Regions from separate parts of the Homo sapiens genome. Here all the other regions are linked to region 2. The links come from fine-mapping of genetic effects on gene expression. A gene starts in region 2. Each other region holds a variant in brackets. All regions are shown on one strand. Distances are between the middles of the regions. Region 1 overlaps MDGA1 (MAM domain containing glycosylphosphatidylinositol anchor 1). Region 2 holds the start of MDGA1 (MAM domain containing glycosylphosphatidylinositol anchor 1). Region 3 has its middle 49 kb from the start of MDGA1.

Evidence for each region.
Region 1: its variant is fine-mapped to the expression of MDGA1 in cerebellar hemisphere (GTEx, PIP 0.98). The same link has a PIP of 0.9 or more in cerebellum.
Region 3: its variant is fine-mapped to the expression of MDGA1 in whole blood (TOPMed, PIP above 0.99).

Annotation. Positions count from the first base shown.
Region 1 is chr6:37,634,844-37,643,260 of GRCh38, reverse strand. MDGA1 (MAM domain containing glycosylphosphatidylinositol anchor 1) reads left to right here. Exons shown (of 17, transcript NM_153487.4): 15 at 4,594-4,724; 16 at 4,948-5,056; 17 at 5,802-8,417. The coding sequence ends at 5,893. Among named protein-coding and RNA genes, the nearest start is that of MDGA1, 59 kb to the left of the region's middle. The variant A/G (reference allele first, on the strand shown) is at 2,064.
Region 2 is chr6:37,695,526-37,703,395 of GRCh38, reverse strand. It overlaps MDGA1 (MAM domain containing glycosylphosphatidylinositol anchor 1), which reads left to right and starts at 5,513. Exons shown (of 17, transcript NM_153487.4): 1 at 5,513-6,651. The coding sequence starts at 6,585. RefSeq lists silencers at 4,402-4,471, 4,492-4,561, 5,428-5,557, 5,578-5,647, 5,708-5,837 and 3 more and enhancers at 6,160-6,889, 6,890-7,619.
Region 3 is chr6:37,741,137-37,752,288 of GRCh38, reverse strand. No RefSeq gene overlaps it. Among named protein-coding and RNA genes, the nearest start is that of MDGA1, 49 kb to the right of the region's middle. RefSeq lists an enhancer at 1,487-2,308. The variant G/A (reference allele first, on the strand shown) is at 6,559.

The sequences.
Region 1 (8,417 bases), 60 kb after region 2:
CAGCAGGATGAGATGGAAGTGGAGGGGATGGAGAAGACAACTAAGAGGATGCAAATATGGAGTGACTGCCAGGTGATGTCCTGGGTGCGCCGCATCCTTGATTGCATTAACCCTCACAGCCACCAGATGAGGGAAGTGTTACCATCCAACTCAGAGACGTCAAGCATTTTTCCCAGACCACACAGTAAGCTAGATCTGTGTGACTTCTCCAAGCCCTAAACATGAGATCGGAAGGGTGCTTCTTTGTGGGCAGTGAGAGGAAGTCCTGCTTCCCAAGTGAGGGAGTGAACATAAGGAGTGCCCTTTGGCAGGCAATGGTACTGGTAGGAGCGTCACATAACCAGTGTCAGCCATCACTTCCAGAGCTCCTGCTCAGTTCCAGGTATCAGGTGCTGTAGTGAACGAGGTGGACGAGTTCCCCATCCTCTTGGCATTTACAGGCAAGTGGGAGAGACAGGTATTAAACAACTCATGCTACCAGCCAGGAGTTAGTGACCCCTGTGGCAGTGGAAGGACAGGGGCTGAGACTGGTGGTAACAGGGAGACCTGCCTGACCCCGCGGCATGGTCATGGAAGACTCTGCTGAGGACATCATGATTTTTTTAAAATTGTTTTTGTTTGTTTACTTGTTTATAGGAAAGGTAATACATTTCACAAAGGCCAAAAGGTACAAAAGGGCACATAATGCAGACGCCCTCCCATCCCAGTTGATCTGCCAAAGGTGATTAATAGACTAGATTTTAGGGCAAATTTTCAGAGATACTTTATCCAATAGAAACCAGTACATATGGCCGGGTGAGGTGGCTCACACCTGTAATCCCAGCACTTTGGGAGGCCGAGGCGGGCGGGACACCTGAGATCAAGAGTTCGAGACCAGCCTGGCTAACATGGCGAAACCTCGTCTCTACTAAAAATACAAAAATTAGCCAGGCTCACGTGATGGCAGGTGCCTGTAAGGAGGCTGAGGTAGGGAGAATTGCTTGAACCCAGGAGGTGGAGGTTGCCGTGAGCCGAGATCACGCCACTGCACTCCCAGCCTGAGTGACAGAGTAAGACTCCGTCTCAAAAAAAAAAAAAAAAAGAAAGAAACCAGTACATATATATATATATATACATATATATAATCTATTTCCTCCCATTTTACACATACCATCCTATACTTGCTTTTTCCCTCTGAATTGTACATCATCTTGGTGATTATTCCTTGTCAGTCCACAGAAAGCATCTTCACTGTTTTCCTCAGCCGTAATGGTAGACGGAGTGACTTTAAGCAAATGTAGATATAAAGGCTCATCGTGGAGAAGTTTCCACAGCTAGGGTGATGGGTCAAGCTGAACTGATGAACAAGAATGGAGTGGGATAGAAGATTCTGCATCCACTGGGGCTCCCAAACCATTTGCACAGATCATTTTGCCCGTGGCTGGGTCTGGACTTCATAAGAAGCTTCTTCTGGGGTAGGTGAGAGTGGATGACCAGGACTCCACCACCCTGCCGAGTCCTCTCATTTCCATTTGGCTTCCCCAGGTAGGACAACCAGTTCATTTGGGTTTACTCCCATCTTTCCTAATTTTAGCACTGGCTATGTTTTATGTGGTGAATAAAGCTAGCCCTTAAAACTCAGTATTTCTCTAATACTGATGCTTATGACAAAGTTCAAAAAAGAAAAAAAGAGTGAGTTAGTTTAAAGAAAGATATTAGCACATGTGTTACATAACTTGGTCAAGATAGCGAAAGGGGAGATTTTGGAGGCATTAGCCTGGGGGTGCTCAGCCCATTTGCCCATAGCCATAGGGACCTGGAATTCTGGGGTAACTGAGGGGTGCTAGAGGAGAAGGAGGTGATCAGAACTTGGCTAAGAGTGCCCAGACAACACCAATGCCCCCTCCCTGTCCCTTCCAGCTCACCTCCAGCCCGCAGTGATATGAGATACCTGGCTCTGAGGGAAGGGGAATCAATCTTAGATGGTGCCCGTTGGCTGGCATTTCCATGGCACTTCCCATAGACAAAGGTGTACCATCTGTGACACCAGATAGACAGACCCCCTGGTGGGAGAGAGCCACCAA[A/G]TGTTACCTGCCTGGGATGAAATGAGTTGGCTTGGACCAAGGAGAGCCAGCAAGACACAAGGTCTGGGGACAGCTGGTGCCCAGAGCTGCCAGGCAGAGTGGGAGGGGAGGAGGGAAGAGGAACTAGGATAGCAAGAAACACCCTGTCCCCCATGGCAAAGCCAGGCAGAGGAGCACATTGAAGTTTCCCGGCATGTGGAGGCACCTTCGCCAGCAGGGGGTGGGACCTTGAGAGGCTGTGCCAGCACCCAGTAGAACAGGAGGTACTCACCCTGGCTTTCACAGGGCCCAAGCCCCAGTGTCTTCCAGGATCCTCACCAGCCCCAAAGGAACGGCTCTCTCTTCTCCCTCCTGGAGATATGCCCCCTGTCCCCATTCCCCTGGGATCTAGCCTCAATTCCCATACCATTTCTTCCTCCTCCACTGCCCTGCCCCAAGGACACTGATGGGGAAGGCTGCTTTTTCACCGTCCCCTCCCCTCAGCACCCCATCAGCTCCAATGTCCCCCCTGCTCAGGGGCTTCCTGACATCCCTTTACAGAGGACATCCAGGACCCCCAACCTTCCTTTTGAAAAGGGCCTGTTCAGGCTCAGTGGCTCACGCCTGTAATCCCAGTGCTTTTGGAGGCCAGGAGTTCTAGACCAGCCTGGGCAACATAGCGAGACCCCATCTCTACTAAAAAACTTTTAAAATTAGCCAGGTGTGGTGGTGCGTGCCTACGGTCCTAGCTACTTGGGAGGCTGAGGTGGGAGGATTATTGAGCCCAGAAGTTTGAGGTTGCAGTGAGCCATGATTGTACCACCAAGACCCTGTCCCCGCACCGCCCCCTCCGAAAAAAGAATGAGCTTTGCTCACTACACTCCTCCGTATCTGTCTTGCCACATCTAAAGCCAAGCAGAACTGTATGCTAGTGCCTGGATAGACTCCAGCTTTCCAGCCTCTGGGCTTTTGCTCAGCCTATTCCCTCTGCTTAACATGCCCTCTTACCACATTCCCCTGGCCAAATCCTTCCCACTCCTCAAGGGCTGTCAAAAACACCACCTCCTCCAGAAGTCTTCCTAGGTTTGAGCTGGGAGCCCTCTATCCTTCCGGTGAACTCTGAGTCCTTAACGTACAGCTCCCCAGGCCCAGACCACTCTCTGCTCTGCGGTATGGCAGTCCCTGGGATTCACATCTTCCCTTCCCTATTTGACTCCTTGCAGGAAGGTCTGTGTCAAACTCCTATCAGTTCCAATAATTAAATTCTGAATGAAGAATTTTCCGTAACTCTTATCAAGGACTTTCATAGAATCTCAGAGTTGGAAGGACCTCAGGGTTCATGAAGACCAAATCCTATCATTCATTTATTCATCCATCTATTCATTCACTTAACTAATTGAGCACCATTATATGCCAGGCACTGTTCTAGGACACTAGAACAAGACAAAGGCCCCTGTCCTTGAAGAGCTTACAGTCTACTGGTGCCAAGCCTTATAAAGAAAATAATGCAGAAAAAAGAACAGAGAGCTATTTTACATGGGGTGGTCAGGGACTTCCTTGAGGGAGGGAAGAATGTTCCAGGCAGGGGCAACATCACAAGCAAAGGCCCTAAGGCAGGAACTGGCCCTCAAGTGTTGAAAGAAAAGCAAGGATACCAGTTTGCTAGACCCGAGTGGCAGCAAATGAGATCAGAGAAGCTGACAGCGCCCAGATCAGGTGTGGAAGGCCAGGAGAAGGACAGCGATGGGAAGCCTCAAAGGAGACTGAGCAGAGGGGGTAACATGATTGGAGACAGGGGTCCCCTCCGCAGCAGCCCTGCTGGATAGTCCTGTCCAGGGACAGGATGCTCCCCCAAGACAGCCCACTCTTTTGCTGGGCAAATCCGATACATCCAGGGTCTTCCTTAGATGCAGTTCAAATCTGCCTCCTGCAAGCTTTCACTTGCTGGTGTTTATTCCACCCCATGGGGAATGCAGAGCACGGACAGTCACACAGACTGTCCTCTCTGGCCTTCTGGACCCAACATACTCCTCTTGCCAACTGGGTATTACTGGACCTTACTGGGCCTTACTGGACCCAACATACTCCTCTTGCCAACTGGGTATTAAACATTTTAAAAGCCCTTCATCTCCCTCCACAAGTCATGTACTGCCAACAGGGACACACTGTTTTCTTTGGAAACCCTGCTGCGTGCCCAGACAGAGGTCCCACTGCCCTGGGACAGCTCCCTTGCCTAGAGGGGAAGGGTAGGGTGTGTGTGCATGTGTGTGTTTGGGGTTGGGGAGATTAGCTGATTAGCAGGGCAGGAAAGAAATGAAAGAAAATTTGCAAGTCATCCTGATGAAATGAAATCCTGCTGAAGTCTTCTCTTTCCCACACTGAGGGTGTCCCTGCAGGAATGGGACATTGCACCCAGCTGGGCATGGGGAGGAGGTCCTGTCAACAGGGACAGGGCTGCAGGCTATGGTGGGAGAAGAGGGCTTGGTAAATGTGGAAAGGTGAGGGTGCCCTGGCCAGATCTCACTGCCCACTGTCTTCACACCCACCGCAGGCTCCCTCAACCTCCTGGTGCGGTCCCGGAACAAAGGGGCTCTGGACACGCACGCCTGGTCTCTCAGTGGCAATAAGGGCAATGTGTGGCAGCAGGCCCATGTGCCCATCAGCCCCAGTGGGCCCTTCCAGGTGAGTCCGTAGGGCCCAGAGGACCCTCCCCGGCTTCGGTGGTTGCTGTGGCCAGGAAACACTTAGGAAAACCTTGTCCTTCTTCCTGGGGGCTAAGGATGGAAAGAGTCAGGTTAGGGGGAACTTCCAGGTAGATTAAGGGGAAAGGTGGGGTCGAGGGAGCACTCTGGTACCCAGCAGAACCTCCTCAACCCTTGCTCCTTGCTTTCTGACCCCACCCCAGATTATTTTTGAGGGGGTTCGAGGCCCGGGCTACCTGGGGGATATTGCCATAGATGACGTCACACTGAAGAAGGGGGAGTGTCCCCGGAAGCAGACGGATCCCAATAAAGGTGCAAGACGGGAAGGAGGTGGGGGAGCTGAATCTGGAGGGAGCTGTGCGTGGCGGGGGTTCCTGTCTGTTGAGGGAGGGTGTTTGGGTCTGAATAGGGGTTCAGAATGTCTGAGTGATGGGAATCATGTGGCTCTGACTGTGTGAAGGTGTGCCCCACACTCACTCAGGCTGTGTACTTGTGTAAACAATGAGAAGCCTGGCCCCCACCCTCGTGATGAGCATACTGACCTGTTCACGGTATCAGAGCGCCTCCTGTGCCTGTGTCTGAATACATCTGTGCGTACCTCTGGCTCCAGAGGTGAACGTGTGCCTTCCAGGGCCAGAGGTTTCCAATACTAACAGCTCCTACTTACTGAGCAATTACTCTGTACCAGGCAAGGCACACAAACTTGTATATGCATGTTTCACTTACCTCACAACAGTTAATCCTCACAACAGTCCTTTGGGGTAGTACACACCATTGGACCCATTTTACAGATGAGGAAACTGAGGCCCACTGAGGTCAAGTAAATTGTTCCAAGTCTTAGTGAATGTGAACCCTGGCAGGCTGAGCTAACCCCCACCCCACCCCACGCCACCTCATGTCTGTGCGGTGAGTTTGTCTGTGTGCACTGAGGCCAGTGCCCACCCTCAGGCCCTCCAAAGAGGTGGGCAGAGTAACAGTGCCGACCTGCCTGCCACTTCCTGCCCCTGCCAGAGCTGACCAGAGCCCTGGCCTGTCTCCTCTTTCTCCCCTGTTGCAGTGGTGGTGATGCCGGGCAGTGGAGCCCCCTGCCAGTCCAGCCCACAGCTGTGGGGGCCCATGGCCATCTTCCTCTTGGCGTTGCAGAGATGATGAGAGCTGTGTGGCCACCCCCCCAACCTTGCCCCCGGCACACCAAAGTGTCCACATTGTACCAAAGACTGACCCCCGCCAGCTGGGGTGCCCAGGGGCAGGGCCGGCCCGCCAGGGAGGGGGCCTGCATTGGCTGCAAGGATGAGCAGAGAACAAGGACAGAGGCCAGGCACTGAGGCCCTGGAGACAGCTGTTCCACTTGCACACACGCACACACTCATGCTCACACACACAGAGATATATTAAAGCACAAGTTTCTATCTGACCTGCCAGCACCTTCTTTACTGCAAAGACAGGGGACTTGCCTGAATGGCATCCGCCAACCCAGGGACCTCGGCGCAACATAGGCCTTGTCCTTGCTGCACTCGTGGTGTGCTTCTGACTTTACCCTGTCCCCTAAGTCAAGGCCGAACTCCAGCCTGGTGGCTTTGCCAGAAGGGAGCCAGAAGTGGGGCAGACATGGAGCCCCTCCCTTGGTCAGACTCTGGGACTCCTGAGATGGGAGAGGCAGGGATCAGAGGACGAACAGGTGGGACTTTGCGAGCTCTGTGACTGTCCCACGTCCAGGAGACAAGGAAGGTAGGGCACCTGCTGCACACGATTCTGTCCAGAGTGAGCACTGGATGGTGGAGACCATAGGTCACCCCAGATTCCTTGACCTATTTCTGGGACACCATATTTCCCTCCTCAGTGTGCACCCTTTGAAGGGACCCAGCACAGGGTCTTGGGCCTGGGCAGTCTGAAGACTGATAACTTCCCCACTCCACCCTACAAGCAGTGGGACTCCTGAGAACACGGTTCTCTCCTAGCCTCAGCCCCCAGCTGGGTCTCAGAGGAGCTGGGGGAGCGGTGGCCAGCCCATTTTCTGGGGTGAGGCTTGACTTGGAGAAAGGCAGAAGAGACGTCCCGCTTCTGTGATTTGGTGCCCCCATATCAGACAATGAATTTGGAAGTGGAGAGGGGCCTTCATTTCTTATCTACTTGGCATGAAAGGGTGCCCTGGATAGGAGGGTGTGTACAGGGCAAAATGCCAAAAAGCACTGTCTAGTTGAAAGTTCCCTTCTCCACCCAGGGGCAGTGAAGGAGGAGGGGCTTATAGAGCTGGGATTGGTGGAGGGAGCAGGTGCCAGTCCCCTCACTCTCTGGGAGCTGTGAAAGGGATCCCTGTCCTTGGGTCCTGGGTTAGGCACCTGAGATTGACATGATGGGATCTAGATCTTTCCTCCTTGACATCACCTGAGCCCCCACCTAGCCATCCATGGGAGAGAGAAGGCCCAGCCCCTTCTAGAATGACTCTTTAGGCATGCGTGCATATGTGTGTATGTGTTTGTGCCCGTCTGTGTCTAGGTACCACCGTGGGTACATTGTTGGGCAGGAGTGTGTGCAAACACAGGTCTGTGTGTGCAATCTCACATATCTGCCTGTGAGACTGGATTGAGACCCATTCGTTTCTATGAATGTCCGTGTACGTCAGCGTGTGTGTCCACCTTCCTGAGTGATGTGTTCGCTTGTAGGGTGCTGGCTGAATAGACTCTGTCCAGCCCTGTTCTGTAGTCTCAAGCTGCCTGCGATGGCCTGAAATTCCACCTTTCATCCCCTATGGATGACGGAGAGCTTACAGATGACCCTATTGAATGCAAGCACCTTTGGTGAGGAGCATCACAGGGCTCCTTCTGGAGCATTTGGTGGGGACAGCTGCAGAGAAGAGGCCTGGAACTCGGGCAGCACTGCAGTGCCAGGAGGCAGGCGGGGAACCGAGGCAAAGGCTGCCCATCTCCCCCTGCCAGGCCTGTGTGATCATTATCACCAACAGCTGGTGGGTGGCCGGGCCAGGATGCAGCGGGGCCTTCTGATGCCCAATCAGCACGGCTGCCTTCCTGACCCAGTCAAGGCCTCTGTCTGAAATGAGTCGCTCCAGGTTCTCAGCATACACTTCCATCGCGTCTGTCGGGTATTGTTCCTTAACTGTCCCATCTGTGCAGAGTCCATTGCCCCAACTAGACTGTGAGCTCCTCCTCTGAGCCTTCCAAGTCCCCCCTCCACCTTCGCCACCTCCCGCTCGTGCCCAGCACAAGTGAGCCTGGTGTGGAAACCACTCCATTGCCCGGTGGAATGGATTCTGTAATCAGTGGTTCCTGGCCTTGCCTGCAGAATAGAACCACCAGAGTCCTTTAAAAAGTATTGCTGCTTGGTTCCCACCTCAGAGGTTCTGAGTTAATTGGACTGGAGCGCAGTCGGACATCAAGAAATGTTGAAAAGCTCCTTGGGTTCTCCTGACAGCAGGAACCACTGGCCTGGCACCACCTGGGTGCTTCCTCTGTGCCCTCGCTGGGGTAGGCATTGGAGCACCAGAGATGAATAGCCCCAAGTGCTCCCTCTTTGGGGTTCCCAAGGCACCCTGTGCCTGCTTCCCTCAGAGGACCTTCCAATCCATTTGCCCCGCAACCCTGGCTGCTCCGACAGGGGAGACTTGTCTCCCTTGTTCCCCTCAGGATCCATAGAGTGGACAGTAAAGGTGCTCAGT
Region 2 (7,870 bases):
GGTGCCCAGGATTATATAGACACAATGCTTGGGTCCATGAATATTTGTTAAGTTAATGAAGAGTCAAAAGAACTCCACTTTTCCAGCCCATTTGCTTCTTCCCAGACCCACCCCAGTGGGGAAGCAGAGCCTGGTAAACCAGTGTCCCTTACACCTGCTCAGAGTGGGAAGACCATAAATTTCTCAAATCAGTATAAAACAAAATTACTTGTGATCTACTGAACCATCAACTCAAAAAAATTAAACAAAACCTCCCCTTTTCCAACATTAGTGTAGACAAAGGAAGCCCAGGTGACCCTCACTTGGGAAATGATGGCTCCAGATATCAGGCCTTGGAGAGAGCTCACAAGGCTTTGGAGTCTAGTGCTGGGAGCAGTCTCAGAGGTGGTCCAGGCACATGTGCTTATTGTGGAAATGAGAATCCAGAGGCCAAAAGGGGAAGGTCACATAATGAGTCAGGGTGTAGTCGTGACATAGTGGCCAGAAGTGGGAGAGGGACTCCTGTCTCCTTTGCGTTCTTCCCCACACCTAAGATTCTAGAACTGGTCACTTCTGTCACACTCTGTTAAACCAGTCTGCGAATGTCCCCTTGCCTCAGTCTTCACATCTATAAAATGGAGGGGGCCACATGTCTTAACTTACCTCACAGGAACATTTTAAGGACCAGGTAGGATAATGGATGTGGAATTCTTTGGAAAGTTCAAATTTGAGGGCACCCATGGAGATGGTTGTAATTTACAAGACAATCTAAATAAATCGGCCTTTCAAATGTGGGCATGGTTCCTAGTCTTGCAATCTAGCCCCATTAATATTCATTAATCAACTCATATGATAAGGATTTACTGAGCACCTACTACTGGCCAGGCACAGGGCCAGCTGCTGAGGATACTGTGGTGCCCCCTTCAGTTTATTCCCTACACAGCAGCCAGAGTGAGCCTGCTAAGTAAAGTTAGATCCCTTCCCTGCTCTGCACAAGACCCTGTCATAGCTCTTCTCATTGCGCTCAGAGTAAAACCCAACATCCTGCAATAATCCCAAGACTCGAATGACCTGCCCCCTAAATCTCTCTGATCTCAGCTCCTCCTACTCTCCCCTCACCTTCTCAGCTGCAGCCACGTCCTCCTCACCACCGCAAGGCCTTTTGTCCTCGCCATCCCCTCTCTCTGCAATGTCCTCCCCCTAGATACTGGCATGGTTCGGTCCCTCTAATCTTAAAGGTCATGACTGAAATGTTAGTGGGGTCCTTCTGGGTACCTTCTCTGACAGTTCAGCTCTTACATTTCCTACTCCTTTCCCTAGCTTTAGTGTTCTCCTTCATACCCTGTACTATCCAAATACCGTATTTTCCCCATTTGTGTAGTCTATTGTCTGTCTCTTCGCTAGACTATAGCCTCCATGAAGGCAGGGATTCTTGTCTGATTTATTTACATTGAGTCTGCTGTGCCTAGGGCAGTGCCTGGCACATAGTAAGCACTCATTAAATATTTGTTAAATGAATGAATGGTGAACATATAGACAAGGTCCCTGCTCCCATGCAGCCTGCATTCTACCAACAGAAGGTCTGCTGGGGGTGTGGGATGAGGAGGGGGGTGGTGTGGGCTACAAACCGTGAGTGACATGCATCTTCAGGGCCCCTTTTCTCCACGGGTATCATGGTGGGATTGCATTCTCACCAGTCTTGAGCCACCACAGTTTATAATAGGAGTTAACTGCCTGCTAATTAGCAGCTGAAGCCATTAATTGGCTATTTGTTAGAGCCCGAATTAATAAACTGGTCTTTCAGCGGGGTCATAACTCTCCCGTTCCTCACCCCTCCCAGTCATCCTTCCCCCACATGACCAGAAAGCGTCTTGCAATGAGATTGAATCAATACCTGCCACTGTATGATTTTCAGAGACAATTTCTCTCACAAGGCGACAACACCATCTAGCAAAGACTCTTCCTCTCTCTCTCTTTCTTTCTCTCCTCTTCCAGGCTGTCACTCGCCGGAGGCGAGCTAGTGGCAGGAGGAGATGGGAGAGCTTTCTAGTAACATGCTCTCACAACAAACCGCAGTTGCCCTGCTTGCTCAATGCCTGGAGCCCCTGGTTCCCTGGCCCCTGGCTTGTGGTCAGCAACGAGTTCCTGAAACCTCCTGGGGCCCAAGTGCTAGGTTTTCTTTGAGGCAAATATATATATATATATATATATATATATATATATATATACACACACACATATATATATATATATTTTTTTTTCTAGTGGGAAGTGACCTAGAATGATCTTGAGTGGAACCGAAGACTTGGCAGCTGGGTGCTGACCACCAAGCCTCCAGATAGCCTGACCTCAGGCTCATCCTGTGCCCTATGGCCCATGTCAGGTCTAGCAGTCTAGCTCTCATGTCCCCCCTGCCCTTGGTGCAATTTGGGGGCCAGAGTATTGTTCTCTGTGTCTGTAAAGGGAACAGGAAACAGTTCTTGTGGAAACATTATTTGATACCTAGGCCCTTGCCCCTCTTCAGTATAGAACAGTGGGAGAGGGCAAGGTCGCCGAGCCAAGCTACTGAGGTCAAAGCTCAGTTTGGCCCCTTAGCAGCTGAGTGAGTCACTACATCTTCCTATGTCATTCCATGAGAATAACAGCCCTGTCTTACATAATGGTTATGAAGATTAAATAGTTAATACAGTGCCTGGCATGTGGTGTCAGCTGTTATTCTTATTACTCCACTTCTCTCTAGGAAGACAGGGATCTTACCTAGTTTACATCTGGGGAAACTGAGGCCTAGAGAGGTTAGGACTGGGACGCAGGACTGATGTCTAGGGCTCTTTCCCTTCTCTGAGGTTGCCTCCCATTGTCAGACACTGGGCTGTGTTGAGGCAGCAGGCAGGGCACACTTGGGGGAGGAGACAGCTGAATTTACAGACACACACAAACAGGCTGTCAAGGTATTTACACTGCATACAATTAGCTGCAGAGTATTCACAAGTGGATTAGCTACAGCAAATGTTCAATCCCAGCCTGGCTAACTTGGTCCTCTGTTCCCCCCACCCCGCCATCATGAACCTTCTTTCTCCTCCAGGCTAGTGTGTGAGTTTAGAGAGGGCAAAGTCAAGAGAATGTCAGCTGAGTCAGTGCAGTTCTCTGTCCCCAGTAACTCACCCCAAAGCCAAAGAGGAGCAATTGACTGCTGTTTGGTGTTGGAACAGCTAATTGGAAAATCAGAGCGCAGTTTCGCACGACATGGAGAAGTACACATTCAGCTCAGAATGGGCAAAGCCAGGAAGAGCCACAGTCGCTGTGATCACTCCCTGAGAGCTTCCTGGAAGGGGTAGAGACTTCCAGGAACCCTCTAATAATGGGAAGAGGATGACAATAGAAGAAGCTATCCCTCATCACTCCCTCAATTGGCACCACTTCCTTTTCTGACTGGATGGGGGAGGCGGGAAGAGGCATGGTGGCTGTGTATCTCTGTGGGACAGAAAATGAATTTTTTGCCTTTGAGGTAACAGTCCGGGGCTGGGGAGTGAAAGGATGGCTACCCTGAGGGTATCCCAGGTCTGTGATATCTGGCCATGATGGGCATCATTCGTGAATTCACTGAACATGTCTGCAGCTGGCATCTGCTGGGAGCACCGCACTGAGTCTGGACTTCCTATCAGCCTTGGACCCACGGGGTAGAAAGGAGAGAAAAGACGGAAGAGGGCACAAGGGAGGCGCAAACGAGTGGAGGTGGGCTAGAGAATAGGAATCTTCGGATGTTCTCGGGCTTCCTGAGATGGACAGAAAGGGGGCTGAGAAAGGAAGGTGGAACCCCCCCATGCCACCAGGCACTTCCCGACACCTCCCGCTCCTCTTCCAGCAGTCAGGAGCGCGCGCTCCGGTGGGGCTTAAGCCCTGGAGAGTCAAGGGAGGAGAGACCCAGCAGGAAATGGGCCTGGGGAAGGGACGGTTCATTATTATTATTTTAAAAAAATTTATGTTTCAATTTATATGCAGACTAACCTTTTTGGAGTGTGGAGATCTTTGAGTTTTGACAAATGCATAGAGCCGTGGAACCACCATCAAGATATTGAGCAGTTCCAGGGGGCGAAGGGAGGGGGGGTTCGTAGTCTCCCCGCTTGTTAGCTGCTGCGATTGTCTGCGCTCCCACGGGCCGACCTAAAACAATTCTTGCGCACACGCTGAGATAAATAACGGCGACAGGTGGAGCAGGTGAGATTAGCAGGACCCGGGTTGGGCGCGGGGCGGGATCGGAGGCGCGGGGGAGGCCACCAGCCTCGCTTGCCAGCCTACGCCCCTCCCCGCGGGCGTTTGGGAGGAGCGTTCTCCGCACTCCTGCTCCGCGAGGGCCCCTTCGAGGCGGCTGAGACCCGAGTGCCGGACTCCCGCCGCTGGAGCGGGGCTCGGGTTCGGCAGCCGGAAGGAGGTGTGCCCCCGGGGCGCTTGGGGGCGCCTGAGGTCCCGAGGGGAGGCAAGATGGGAAGAGTGGCTAGCCGAGGAAAATGTGGGGTGACTTAGGGAAGCTCTGGCGGAGGGGTCGTGCGAGCAAACCTGTTGGCAACCTGTGGGCCGCGGCAAGGGCAGGAGCTCTCAGCGCGACCTCTCCGCCAGCTGCTCCGGCCCGGCCCCAGCACCAGACGCCTGGAAAGGGGCGGGGGCCTCTCGAGCCGGGCAGACAGCCTTGCAGACCCACAGCCGCGGCCCGTCTCGCGCGGCTGCAGGACCCCAGGAACCGCAGGCGCCCGGCCTTTCCCTAGGACCCCCGCTTCAGTCCCGCCTCCCCAAAGTGCAAAACATTTACGAAGTGTGCAGTGCCCTGCGGGCATGGGTCTCCGAAGCGAGCGGCCGTGTTTGCCCCGCGGGCTGCTGGCAACGGTGCACCCGGCTCGGCCAGCTAGTCTGGGTGTGCAAGGCTGGAGAACAGCGAGTGTGCGAGCGCGCGGCTGCAGAGCCCCCGCCGAAACCCAGGTCCCTCCGCCACTGTCCTCGGGATAGATGGATCCATTTCTGCTTTCTGACATTTTCCTGCTGGGCGGGGTTGGGGGGGAATGTTAGGGGGCGGAGAGAGGAAGAGAGAGAGAGGGAGAGGAGAAAGGGAAAGAGAGGAGAGGAGAGGAAGGGAGAGAGAGCGAGAGGGAGAGAGAGAGGAGAGAGAGAAGAGAGAGAGAGGAGAGAGAGAGAAAGAGAGAGAGAGAGAGAGAGAGAGAGAGAGAGAGAGAGAGAGAGAGAGAGAAAGAGAAAGAGAAAGAGAAAGAGAAAGGCAGGCAGTCAGCTTCCCCCAGCCCTGTTTTGTTTTCTCTAATTGGTCCTGGGGGAGGCGAGGAAATTGGACAGAGGCTGGGCCAGGCGAGCTGGGCTGCCTTTAATTGGCTCCTTTTTTTAACTGGAGGGGAATCAAACAGGAGAGCGAGCGACAACGGGTGGGAGAGCGAGAGACCGAACGAGGAGACGCGAGGAGGAGGGAGGAGGAAGAGAGGGAGGGAGGCGGGAGGAGCGCGGAATGAAAAGCTCGGAGGGGCGAAAAAGCAGCACAGCAAAGCCCAAGTTGCTGAGCGAGCGGAGCGCTCCCGCGGCCCGGAGCCGAGCGGCCGCCGCGCCCCGGAGCCCGGCCCGGCCCCGCCCGCTCTGGGCCCCCGCAGGCCAAGGCCGCCGGGCGGGGGCGGGGACGACCAACTTGGGGCGCGGCGTAGCCCCGCTCTCCCGAGAGCTCGGAGCCCGGGAGGGCTACGGCCGCGGCCAGACGGCGGGAGAGGAGCGCGGCGAGCGGAGGCGGCGAGCGGCGCCCGCGCCGCAGCCCCGGCCTGGGCGAGAGCGCGAATATTTTTCAAAAGACTCAAACTTTCCTCCTTTCCCCGTTTTCTGGGGCCCTTCTTGCCTGGAATTGCTCTCCAGATTCCCGCGGGGCGCCGGGCTGCTATTCTTCCCCCGGGTTTATCGGCGGCTCGGCTAACTTCACGGACCCGGGGACCCGCGGCGCTCGTCCCTCGGCCGAACCCAGCCCGCGCTGCTCCCCGGATCAGGAGGGCCGGGCCCGGGGCTGCTTCGCCGCCGCGAGTGCTTTCAGCCCGGCCCCCTGGAGTCGGGCCGCTGAGCCCACGGCAGCGGCCGCAGGACTGGAAACAGCAGATTGATTAACTCGAGCGGAGCCCCGGCCTCCCCGACTCCGCTCCGCTGAGGGGCGGCCCCAGTGCGGGGAAACGACAAGTTTGTCAGTCGTCCGTGGCCTGTTGGATCGAAGCGCCGCCTCCGCCGCCGAGAGGTCCCCGGCGCCTAGCATCCCGCGCGGACGGCCCTGGGTACCCGGGGCGGCTCGGCGGCCGGGCTCCTCGGGTCGGGGCGCTGGCTGCTGTGCCGGGCGCGCCGAGGCACCCGGGGCTGGGCCAGCGCCCCCTGCGTCCCCACGCGGGCAGCGGCCCCGCCGGAGGAGAAACACGGGTCGCCGCCACCTCCGCCTCTTCAGTCTCCTGGTCTTCGTCGCCGCTCTCTCTCTCACCTCTCAGGGAAAGGGGGGGACATAGGGGCGTCGCGGGGCCCCGGCGAATGCGCCCCCCGCCGCCTCTCGGGCTGCGCCGCCTCGCGGGGATGAAGCACCGGCCGTGAAGATGGAGGTGACCTGCCTTCTACTTCTGGCGCTGATCCCCTTCCACTGCCGGGGACAAGGAGTCTACGGTAAGAGCCCGCGTCCCGCTCCACCTTGGCTTAACCTCGCGCGGAAACTTTGCAAGAGGCGCAAAGTGCGCGCTGCCGGGGTTTGGTGGAGACCTCGACTCGGACTCTGGAGTGGATGCCCGCGTCCCCGCCCTCTCCAGGGCGCGTGGAGACCGAGCTAGCTGCTTCGGAACACAGGGGCCGGTCGTAGGGTCTGGTGGGAAGCCGGGATGTCAGGAGGAGGCACCCACTTTCCCACACCCTGCTAGAGGTGGGAATGATTAGGAACCCTTGAGAGCACCCGGTCGGCTCGGGAGACCCGGACAGACCCAGTCTAGGACTGGTGCAGCGACTTGCACCGAAACCTCGTCCTGGCTCGGCCTCCGGAGTGGAAGCCAAGCGATGCATGAGCCGGAGTTGCCGCGCGGCTTGCGGGCGAGCCGGCTGTCAGCACCAAGGCCGGGCGGCGGGCTCGCCTTCCCCGCTGTTGCTGCGGCTTCGCTTCTTCTACTCAGGGCTTGACACCCTGATCAGGATGCCGGCATCCCCTGGCCCTGGCGCCTTCGACCCCGGCATCCCTTTTCGGACCTTCCCTGAACCAGTTCTTCCTGTCCCCGGTTCTTGGCTACAAACCCCAACCCCACCTTCCTTCCTGCGCGCACACACAGATACATTCAGCCACCATCCCCAGAAAACGCAAACACGGCACGCACCCACCGGGATACGTGTCCAAACTCTGCCTCCTGCCACGCAGCCTTGCTCCTGCGTCCGCACGCCTCGCTGTGGTTACCAAGGGAGACTCTGGTTACCCCTTCCCCCTTCCATCCTGTGGGTTTTCCCAGGGAAGGCCCGGGGCAGGCATCATCCATTCAGTCACCTGGGCTCAGCCTCCCGCAGTGCCTTAACCCCACAGCACAAAAAATCATTCTCAGGGGCCCAGTGGCCCTTACTTTGCTTTCTCTTTACTGCAGGATGGTTTGTCCAGGTCCCTTTTTAGTGATGTGTGGCTGGGGCGGGCAGGATTCTCTCTTTCCTTTTCTGTTGGGTGGAGGGACTAATGATTCCTCTTTTAGATCCAGGGGAGGTTGACCTGTTCTTTGTGGGGTAGTATAGGCACTGACTACTGGTTGCCAGCCTCAGGTGCTGAGGCTAAAGCACCCTGGAGGGTGCTGACCCATCTGCCTGTGCCTGGCAAGAAGAAGGGGTGTCCTGAAGGGTGTCTGAGAGGTGACATGCTCCT
Region 3 (11,152 bases), 47 kb before region 2:
CGAAGGCCCCGGGTTGGAGCTCATATAGGACGGGCTTAGATACTGGTGAGGGGTTGTGCAAGTGTTTAGCTGATGTTAGTTTGGGACTGGGGAATGAGACAATCAATCACAAAATCCTTTCCAAGTTATCGACTTCCTCTTTTATTCCCCTCCCCAATTCAAAAGTATTCTTTTAGGCTGTAATACGTGAGGTTCATTGGGGACACTGGCTGTAGACAGTCCTCTCCTCCCCGACTTCTTTTCCAAGGAAACAGCAGTGTCCCAAGCCCCTGGACCTCTGCCCTGGGGTCTGATCTCTTGGCACTAGACCACCCAATTATGGGCTGGATAGAAGATGGAGAAGGAGAGGAAAGGAGATGTGGAAGGACCCAGAGCAGGACCTGAAGGGGGTGGGGAGAGCAGAGGAGATCCTGATCTCAGAAGAGGCAAGCCCGAGGCTTTGGGGGTCTCAGTGACTTCGGGCCAGGCAGGTCCCATAGATGGGTTGGCCTGGAAGGACAGCGTGATGGCAGTCACAGAAGATATCACCCCCATCTTTCTAGATTCCCAGCCCACACTCCCCCAGTACCCTCAAACTAGAAGTGTCAAATGTTACGGTTTCTCAGAGGCTAGGGTTTTATGAACCCCCCAGAACTGCTATTCCTTTTCCCGGTGCGGCCTTTCCCCCTCCACAGTGACAGTGGGGATGCATTAAGGCACAGACTGTGGAGTCAGATGACAAAGGGTCAGATGCTGGGCATGATGTGTTGGGCAAGTGAATTAACATTTCTGAGCCTCAGTTTTATCATCTGTGAATTAGGGCTGATGATAGTATCTGCCCCACAGAGTTGTTAAAATGTTTAAATGTGCTTATGCCCCTAAAGCGCTTAGCCCACAGGGCCTCACAGGTAGGAAATGCTCAATTCACATTAGGTATTTGAATGGCTGATGTAGGTGACTGGCCCCCCTGTGACTCACCTTTTGTGTTCCAGTTTGTCCTCACCTCTAATCTCAAGGAAGCTTCTGTCTCTGCTGGTCCTGACCAGTCTTAAGAATATTGCTTCCGGCCGGGCGCGGTGGCTCACGCCTGTAATCCCAGCACTTTGGGAGGCCGAGGCGGGTGGATCATGAGGTCAGGAGATCAAGACCATCCTGGCTAACAAGGTGAAACCCCGTCTCTACTAAAAATACAAAAAATTAGCCGGGCGCGGTGGCGGGCGCCTGTAGTCCCAGCTACTCGGGAGGCTGAGGCAGGAGAATGGCGTGAACCCGGGAAGCGGAGCTTGCAGTGAGCTGAGATTGCGCCACTGCACTCCAGCCTGGGCGACAGAGCGAGACTCCGTCTCAAAAAAAAAAAAAAAAAAAAAAAAAGAATATTGCTTCCAAAGGCTCAAAAGTTTCTCCACGTCTTTCCTTCTAGATTTGCAGTGGGCACCTTCTTAACAACAGACCTCTACTCCTGGCTCCTAAATGTCTGCAGAAATTCTCTTTCCTCTGCTGCTGCACCCCTCCTGCTGCCCAGCCTCTGGTGCCCAGCTGCACAGTGCCCTCCAGCTTCAAGTTTTTTTTGTTTGTTTGTTTTTAAGTTCTGGGATACATGTGCAGAACTTACAGGTTTATTACATAGGTATACATGTGCCATGGTGGTTTGCTATACCCATCAACCTGTCATCTAGGGTTTTTTTTTTTGTTTTTGTGTTTGTTTGTTTTGAGACAGAGTCTCGCTCTGTTCTTCAGGCTGGAGTGCAGTGGCCTGATCTCGGCTCACTGAGACCTCCGCCTCCCGGGTTCAAGCGATTCTCCTGCCCCAGCCTCCTGAGTAGCTGGGATTACAGGCACCCGCCACCACGCCTGGCTAATTTTTGTATCTTTAGTCGAGACAGGGTTTCATCATGTTGGCCAGGCTGGTCTCGAAATCCTGACCTCAGGCGATCCACCCACCTCGGTCTTCCAAAGTGCTAGGATTACAGGCGCGAGCCACCGTGCCCAGCCCCTCATCTAGGTTTTAAGCCCTGCATGCATTAGGTATTTGTCCTAATGCTCTCCCTCCCCTTCAAGTTTCTTACTGCATTTCTATGACCCACCGCCCCCAGCAGTCTTGCTCAGTCCCTCAGTCTCTGTCTCGCTATCTCTGACTCTGTCCCTGTCTTCTTTGTCTCTCATTTCCCCTCCCCATTCCCCCTTTGTTCTGTCTCCCTTAATTAGCAATACTCTGGAACAGAAGTGTTTTTATTATGTTTTATTTATTGAATGGCTTTCAGTTTCCTGTTCTTAATTTAAAAGGCAGATCAATAAGATGCTTTATATTCCTGGTTTAAAACAAAACAAAGCTAAGTTAAGTTGTTCTTTGTTCATGCGGCTCTTCTTTGCATATTTCTTTCTCTGTAGGAAGAAAAGGTTCCTCACCCACGGTCTCTTAATTGACAAAAACACTTAATTCACTCACTGGTTCATTCACTCAGTAAATTATTCAGTAAGAGCCCTAGTTGTGGGCCAGGCACTGTGCTGGACTCAGGGAGTATATTAATCTGTTTTCACGCTGCTATAAAAAACTGCCCAAGACTGGGTAGTTGACAAAGGAAAGAGATTTAATTGACTCACAGTTCAGCATGGCTGGGGAGGCCTCAGGAAACTTAAAATCATAGTGGAAGGCAAAGGGGAAGCAAGACGTCTTCTTCACAAGGTGGCAGGAAGGAGAATGAACACAGAAGGAACTACCAAACACTTATAAAACCGTCAGATCTCGTGAGAACTCACTGACTATCACGAGAACAGCATGGGGGAAACCACCTCCATGATCCAATTACCTCCACCTGGTCTCTCCCTTGACATATGAGGATTGTGGGGATTGTAATTCAAGATGAGATTTGGGTGCGGACACAAAGCCTAACCATATCAGGGGACATAGAGATAATATAAAGCAGTATTCCTGTCCTCAAGTGCTCCTATCTAGCTAGGGAAACTGATTCAGGCACCAGTACATGCCAGAAAAAGTTAGAGCTGCTATGTCAATGTTTATGGTGTTGGCTGTGGTGCAAAGGGGTGGGGAAGGCTTCCTGGGGGAGAGCAAGCTGGGCTGAGAATTCAAATGTGAATAGATGTCTTGACTTGGGTTCACCCAGAAGCAGATCCTAAAACAAGGAAATGAGTGCAAGTAGTTAATTTGGGAGGATCCCGGGGAGTACTGGCAGGGGAATGGGGAAGAGAGACCTGGAGGAAAGGGAGGAAGTCAATACAGAGTACATCAATGAGAGGTTGCCATTTCGGGCAATTGGGGCTCAGTTCCTCTGGGATCCTCTGGGAGACTGTGTAGAACACACCTTAGAGTTATCCCAACTGAGTGGTGAAGGAGTTGGGGTATTTACACTCTTGTCACCTGCCATCCATCACTGATGAGGGCTGTCTTGGGGAGGCATTAATTACCCCACACTCCTGGCCTGCTGCACAGATGGCAACATGGACTCTGGTGGCCAGAGAGAGCCTTCAAGCAAAAAAAAAAAAAATGCAGGTTGTAGCAGTTGGGAGTCAGACTAGTACGCACTGAAGCCGTAAGAATGAAGGAGTGTGGGCTGGGCACCAACATCACCTGCTATGGCAGGTGCTGGGGGAAGGGATGGGCATTCCAGACAGGTGGAAAGTGTGATCGAGGGCAAAATATGTGGTGACCCCAGGAGGCCACACATAGTTTTGTGTGGTTCCAAAATTCAAGTTCAGGAAATCTGTCTTTGTGTAGCCTGGGCCTCAGCTCCCTCATTTATAGAAAGGTGATAAAAATACTTTCCCCACTCATCCAAGATGATTTGCACAAAGCCCCCAGCTTGGACCCTGCAGAACAGAGCCCAATTCAGCCCTTTCCTTAAATTCCTCCACCTCATCTCCTGCCAGCCTGCAAGCCCTGGATATGCGAGGCTATTTATGATGCCCTGTCGATATCTGTCTTGGTGGAGGAGCGTGGAGGGGATGGATGGAGCCTGGGGTCCTATCCATCAGTCACTTGGCTGCAATCTCTAAAGAGATTTTAATTGTGAGCTCAGATTTACTCCAGTCATCAGCAGTGCCCGCCTGCCTCTTTACCAGTAGAGAGTGGGGCCTGCAGGCCCTCTGTGGTTTGCCAAATAGACGTCTTGTAGCAACGCTGAGGAAATATTTGCTGCAGTGAAACAATGTGCCTGGTGGAAAGCAATCGCCCTAAATCGCCCCCTGACAGCCCGCCAGAGCCCTACCAGAGGCTTCTTCCACTATGCGCTCAGCTTTTTCTCCAGAGTTGTGCTTCTGCTACCTACCCAGGGAAGAGGATGATGGCCTCAAACCTGAATTGGAGGGAAACTGAAGCAGGGGCAGCGTTCCCCCTCTTCTGGGCCATGTGGTAGAGGGGACAGTAGGAGAACAAGGTGGCAGGGGTGGAGAGTAGTGTGGGAGCCCTGGGTTAGAAAGACCTGGACCAGGCTGGGCGCTGTGGTTCACGCTTGTAATCCCAGCACTTTGGGAGACCAAGGCAGGCAGATCATGAGGTCAGGAGTTCGAGACCAGCCTGACCAACATAGTGAAACCCCGTCTCTACTAAAAAAAATACAAACATTAGCCAGGTGTGATGGTGCGCACCTGTAATCCCAGCTACTCAGGAGGCTGAGGCAGAAAAATCGCTTGAACCCGGGAGGCGGGGGTTGCAGTGAGACGAGATCATGCCACTGCACTCCAGCCTGGGCGACAGAGTGAGACTCCATCTCAAAAAAAAAAAAAAAAAAAAAAAAAGCAAGACCTGGACCAGGCCCATTCTGAGCAAAAGGTCCAGGGGATGTTAGCCCCTTTCACAGCTAAGAACTCCTGGGTTAAGAGAAGTGAGCCTGAGTTTGTGCAGCAAGCGATACCAGGAATCTCAGCTTTGGCCCTCTGGGTTTTTGCTTAAGGTTCTGTCTTTGGCCCCCCAGCATCCCTTTCTGAACTCTCTTTCCTATGCCTCTGCAGGGGACCAGGGCCCATTCACCATCAGGGTTTGCTTTGGGGAAATGACCTACTTCCAAAGCTTGTGCCTCTGAGTGAGTTTCAGTGGCCTCCTCTCTCAGAGGTGGCCAAAGTCTTCTCTCCACCTGTCGGGTCAAAGTGCTTATATCCTCTGGGGGAAAGGAGGATGAGGAAGAGGAGATGGAAGAGGAGGAGGAGGAGTTGGGGCAGGAGTGGAGAAGAGACACTTCCTAGACTGGGAAGTCACTCAAGGAGCTTCCTATTCTGCCTTCAAGGCAGAATGGCCTAAGTGCATATTCTCTTTAAAGCAGCAGCCTATTTTTGTAAAATTTATCCAACAGAAGCAAAACAAAATAGAACAAAACCACCAGCCCACAAGAATGGCATACTTGATATCTATTGTCACATTGCTGGTGATAGCAAAAACCCAGAAGCCTGAATGTCCATTGATAGAGGCATGGTTGAATAAGTTTTTATGGTCCAATTTTTGAATATCATGATGCTATTATAAAGGAGGTAGGTCTGCTGCAGTGGCTCATGCCTATAATCCCAGCACTTCGGGAGGCTGAGGTGGGTAGATCACTTGAGCCCAGGAGTTGGAGATGAGCCTGGGCAACATGGTGAAAACTTATCTCCACAAAAAATACAAAACATTAGCCAGGCATGGTGGCATGCACCTATGGTCCCAGCTACTTGGGAGGCTGAGGCAGGAGGATCACCTGAGCCTGGGAGGTCAAGGTTGCGATGAGGCATTATTGTGCCATTACACTTCAGCCTGGGTTACAGCGTGAGACTCTGTCAAAAAAAAAATTAATTAATTAAATTTTAAAAGGAGGCATATCTAATTGTTGACTCACAAGGCTGTACATGAAAAAATCAAGTTGCAGAGTGGTAAGTGTGTTTGGGTCCCATTAAAGAAATCTGGGCTGGGCGCGGTGGCTCAAGCCTGTAATCCCAGGACTTCGGGAGGCCGAGGCGGGCGGATCATGAGGTCAGGAGATTGAGACCATCCTGGTTAACACAGTGAAACCCCGCCTCTACTAAAAATACAAAAAATTAGCCAGGTGTGGTGTCAGGCCTGTATATGTTTGTGGATAGGTAAGGAAAAGCACAAACGTGGCGAGAGTCATATTAAGATTAGGGTCAGCTGTGAATAAAAGGAAAAAAAGACCGCCAAACAACAAATGTTTAAACAAGATAACATATTTCTTATGTATCTCTTCTTTAACCTTCTGGAGGTGAGTGGTTCGGGGCTGGTGTGGTAGTTCTACTCCAAGAAATCCTCCAGGTTCCCTCTATCCACCATGAGTGGCCTCCATTCCCAAGGTTACCTCATGGCTCAAGATGGCTGCTTCAGCTTCAGCCATCACCTTAACATTCCAGCGGGTAGGAAAGAGGAAGGCACCAACAGTATCATGTTCCTTCTTCTTAAAAGGTCACTTCCTCAAAGTCTCCTATATTATTTTTCGTTATATCTCATTTGCTAGAACTTAATTCTATAGTTACAACCTAACCACAAGCCGGGTACGGTGGCTCACATCTGTAATCCCAGCACTTTGGGAGGCAGATGTGAGCGGCCCATGAGGTCAGGAGTTCGAGGCCAGCCTGGCCAATATG[G/A]TGAAACCCCGTCTCTACTAAAAATACAAAAATTAGCTGGGCGTGGTTGTGCGCACCTGTAGTCCCAGCTACTCGGGAGGCTGAGGCAGGAGAATTGCTTGAACCCTGGAGGCAGAGGTTGCAGTGAACCGAGATAGCACCACTGCACTCCAGCCTGGCGACAGAGTGAGACTCCGTCTCAAAAAAAAAAAATAAAAATAAGAGGCTGAGGCAGGAGGATTACCTGAGTCCAAGAGTTTGAGACCAGCCTGAGCAACATAGTGAGATCCTGTCTCTAAAAAAAAAAAAAAAAAAAAAAAAAAACGAGAGAGAGAGAGAGAAGAAAAGAGTATTATTTGTATTACTTCTGAAATTTAAAAATCCCCAATAACATAGTCGTATTTTTTAATTATTTATTTTTTGCCCCATTTTAAACATATTCTTAAAAACCTCTTGCATGGCTCTTACTATTCTAGCATGAATTCTAAATCTCCTAGCCTTATACCTAAGGCCCTCTCGGATCTGTCTGGGTCATCCTTTGAGCTTCCTCCTTCCTCCCCGCAGTCTTAATGTGGACACACTGATTCCCTCACTTTTCACCATAAACTCCCTGCCTCTGTGACTTTGCGTCTGGTTCCTGTCTCTAACATGCCCTTCCTGCTCCCCACTTTGTCTTTACAAACGCCACACGAAAGTTGTTGCCCGGGAGAAATCTTCCCTCCTTGCCTGGGCAGTCCTCTGCCTGCGCCTCTACTGTCTTCAGCACTTTTTTTTTTTTAAGACAGTCTCACTCTGTCACCCAGGCTGGAGTGCAGTGGCTCGATCTCGGCTCACTGCAAGCTCCACCTCCCGGGTTCACGCCATTCTCCTGCCTCAGCCTCCCAAGTAGCTGGGACTACAGGCGCCCGCCACCACGCCTGGCTAATTTTTTTTTGTATTTTTAATAGAGACGGGGTTTCACCGTGTTAGCCAGGATGCTCTCGATCTCCTGACCTCGTGATCTGCCCTCCTTGGCCTCCCAAAGTGCCGGGATTACAGGTGTGAGCCACCGCCCCGGCCCTTCGGCACTCTTTCTGAGCACGCACTGTGCGGTCCGGTGGTTTATTTCTTCTGCATCCACTTTCCGCACTAGACCAGGGGCTCCTCCAGGACAGGGACTGCCACTCATTTGTTCCTCTCCTTGGGCACTCATGATAGCACCTGTTATATAGTAGATGTTCAATGAATCTGCCCGATGCTCTCTGCAAGCATTTGTCTCATTTGTCTTCACATCAACCTGTGAGGTCGGTATCATTATTGCCCCATTTTACAGGAGTGGGCGGCAATATTGTGCAGTGGTTATAGATGAGAGCCAGCAGCCCTGGGTTCCAGTAATAACATTTAGGTAAACTACTTAATTTGCTAAAGTCTCAGTTTCCTCACTTATCAACTGGAGTTCAGGTCAGCATGCCATAGGCGCTCAATACATGGTAGAGATTCCTAGTAGATGCCTGGGGCTGGGATCTTTCTCTTTCCCTGCACTCTTTACCCCTCTTCCAGTTGGGTAGAGTCATGTCACCCACATCCCCTGCCCAGCCCTGCGGCCAGTTCCCAGGTCATGTTAGGCCAGGCCCAGCCCATCCTCCCACCAGCCCTGATGTGGAAACTGGAGGTACGAGGGAAGAAGGAGGAGGGTGGAAGTTTGATGGCCCTTAAGTGACCTAACCCTCCGTGCATCCTCCCAGAGGGCACAGCCTATGCAGTGTCCCTGGTACTGGCTCCGGTTCCCTTCCTATTGATCAGAAGGGACAACCTACACACAGGACGTCACATCATCCTTTTGGGATGGGATGAGCACTGGGCAGAAACAGTTCTTCAGGACCCTGAAGAGAACAGGTGCCCAAAATGGGGAGAGACCTTTACCCCACAGCCCCCAGTGTCAGCTGATGTCCACCTCAGCAGCCTGCTCCACAGCCTCTGGCTGGGCAGCCCTCACCCATCCTCAGGTACCCATTCACTGGGTCTGCCACCCCAGGAAGAGAGAAATCATCCTGAACTTTGGGGAGAGGGACACCTTCAAGAAGAGTTTTCCATGCAGAGGAACTTTACTGGAGGAGGGAGATTCAGGTCTGAGTGCAGGAACCCTGTAGACCTGCTCTATAGATGTGTAACTGGACTCTATATACACAGGCTAGCAGTGGCCTCTTGGGAACCCCTTAGCTCCTCTCCAGAGTCCTGTGCAGTCAGAGGACATCAAGCCTCCCACCCCCCCTCGCATACATTGTAGGCTATGGGGAGAAAAATGGCTGTCCTCTGGCATCGGCTGTGTCCGGAATCAGCTTCTCATTCAGTGGTAACTTCTGTGCTGGGTGAAGTGGCAGTCAGCAAACTGCAACCAGGTTCTGACTTTAGTCACACACACCCCTGCCACCAAACAAACATGAGCAGAGGCATTTGGGAGACAGGACTGGGGGAATGAGCATAAAGTATTCTGGAAGGATCCCCTTTCCTCCTCTCAGGTGGACCATGGCTCTGCAGCTGGGAGTACGGAGAAAATTATCTGTTCATCTCCTCCCCTCCCCTCCCATGGTCTTTGTGGGTGAGAGAGGAGAGCCAGTGACCTGAGGCAGGTGACCCTTAACTGGGCTAACTGGGTGACTTTTGGGTTCTGTGCTTGGAAGCCCTGGCTGCCACATGTCACCCTCTTTTGTCACTTGTTTCCCAGCTTCTGAGATTGTGTCTTTTTTTTTTTTTTGAGACTGAGTCTCGCTCTGTCGCCCAGGCTGGAGTGTAGTAGTGCGATCTCGGCTCACTGCAACCTCCACCTCCCGGGTTCAAGCGATTCTTGTGCCTCAGCCTCCTGAGTAGCTGGGACTACAGGCATGCGCCACCATGCCCAGCTACTTTTTTTGTATTTTTATTAGAGACAGGGTTTCACCATGTTGGCCAGGCTGGTCTTGAAGTCCTGACCTCAGGTGATCTGCCCGCCTCGGCCTCCCAAAGTGAGCCACTGCACCCAGCTGAGATTGTGTCTTAATAGCCAAGCCGTAACTGTTCCTCCAGGGTGCCCCCTCAGATGGACGGGGGTGGTGTGGATGTAGGAACCTCGGCCTCCTCTGCCAAAAAGGGGCCTCCTGAAGGCCAGCACCTGTGTCCTCTGGCAGATGGGAAACCCAGCAAAGGCTGGGAGAGGACAGCTCCTCCTGTCACACTGGACACTAATTCCCAGAGGATGAGCCCTGCCTGCCCCAACAGACTGGACAGCCAGCTTGGCCTCAGGGGTCCCCCAGCTGGGCTGGGGTGGTTTGGGCAAGAGGAGGCAGGAAGGGGGCTCCGGCCTCTGTCCTCTGTTCACAACCAAATTGCCTCCTTCACCTTTCCCAGGTTGTGTTTACCTTGTCCTCCTCCCACTGCACTGTTCTCCCAGCCGATCTGATTGCTGTAATTAGTTAATCAGTAACTGGCATAATTTCCCCCTGATTAATGCAGGAATAATCACCCGCCAGGGCTGCCAGCAATTTGCTTATCAGAGTCACTTTGAAACAGCTTTGAAAATGAACGATTGGCACCTTCCTCGGGGTTAAAATTAGAGCCCAAGGAGGCCGCCCTCTGCTGTGGGCGTCTGGGACTGTCGGGACCAGCAGGGGAGTCCCAACCCCACTGTCGGAGCCAGGGAACACCACGGTTCCCATGTCTGGCTGGCTCCAAAAATGTTTGCTGAATGGGGAGAGGATGGATACTGTTTCTACCTACTGTGCACTGGCTACACGGGGTTCCCAGGAACACAAGGCAGACAGGTGGAGGTGCTGGGGGGTCCCTCTGGGATGAAGCCAGCAGGTAGAGACCAGGACAGGAGGCTTGTCCTGGAGCAGGAGGAAAGGGCAGTTGATAAAGGGGCAGAGTAATAGGGCCAAAAGGAGGGTCCAGCTCTAGTTAGTAATAATAATAATAGTAATAGCAAAATAGCATCATTCCCACCTTTTATGGAGTAGAGGAACTGTACTAGTTCTTCATATACGTTATCTCATTTCCCCCCCACCCTTTTTTTTTTTTTTTTTTTTTTTTTTTTTAGAGAGCTTCTCACTCTGTCACCTAGGCTGGGAGTGCAGTGGTGTGATCTCGGCTCAGTGCAGCCTCTACCTCCCGGGATCAAGTGATTCTCATGCCTTAGCCTCCAGAATAGCTGGGATTACAGGCATGCGCCACCATGCCCGGCTAATTATTTTGTAGTTTTAATAGAGATGGGGCTTTGCCATGTTAGCCAGGCTGGTCTCAAACACCGTGCTGGTATTATAGGCATGAGCCACTGTGTCTGGCCTTATTTAATCTTTATGCAATAATAATAAACACTTAATGAGCACATACTATGTAGCAGTACTGCTTCGCTTTTACAATTTTATTTCCCCCCGCCCCCCTTTTTTTTGAGATAGGGTCTCACTCTGACAACCAGGCTGGAGTGCAGTGGTGTGATCATAGCTCACTGCAGTTTCAACCTCCTGGGCTCAAGCGATCCTCCCGCCTCAGCCTCCCAAGTAGCTGAGACTACAAGTGCACGCCACTACATGCACCGACACACCTGGCTAATTTTATTTTACTTTGTAGAGACGAGGTCTCACTATGCTACCCAGGCTGGTCT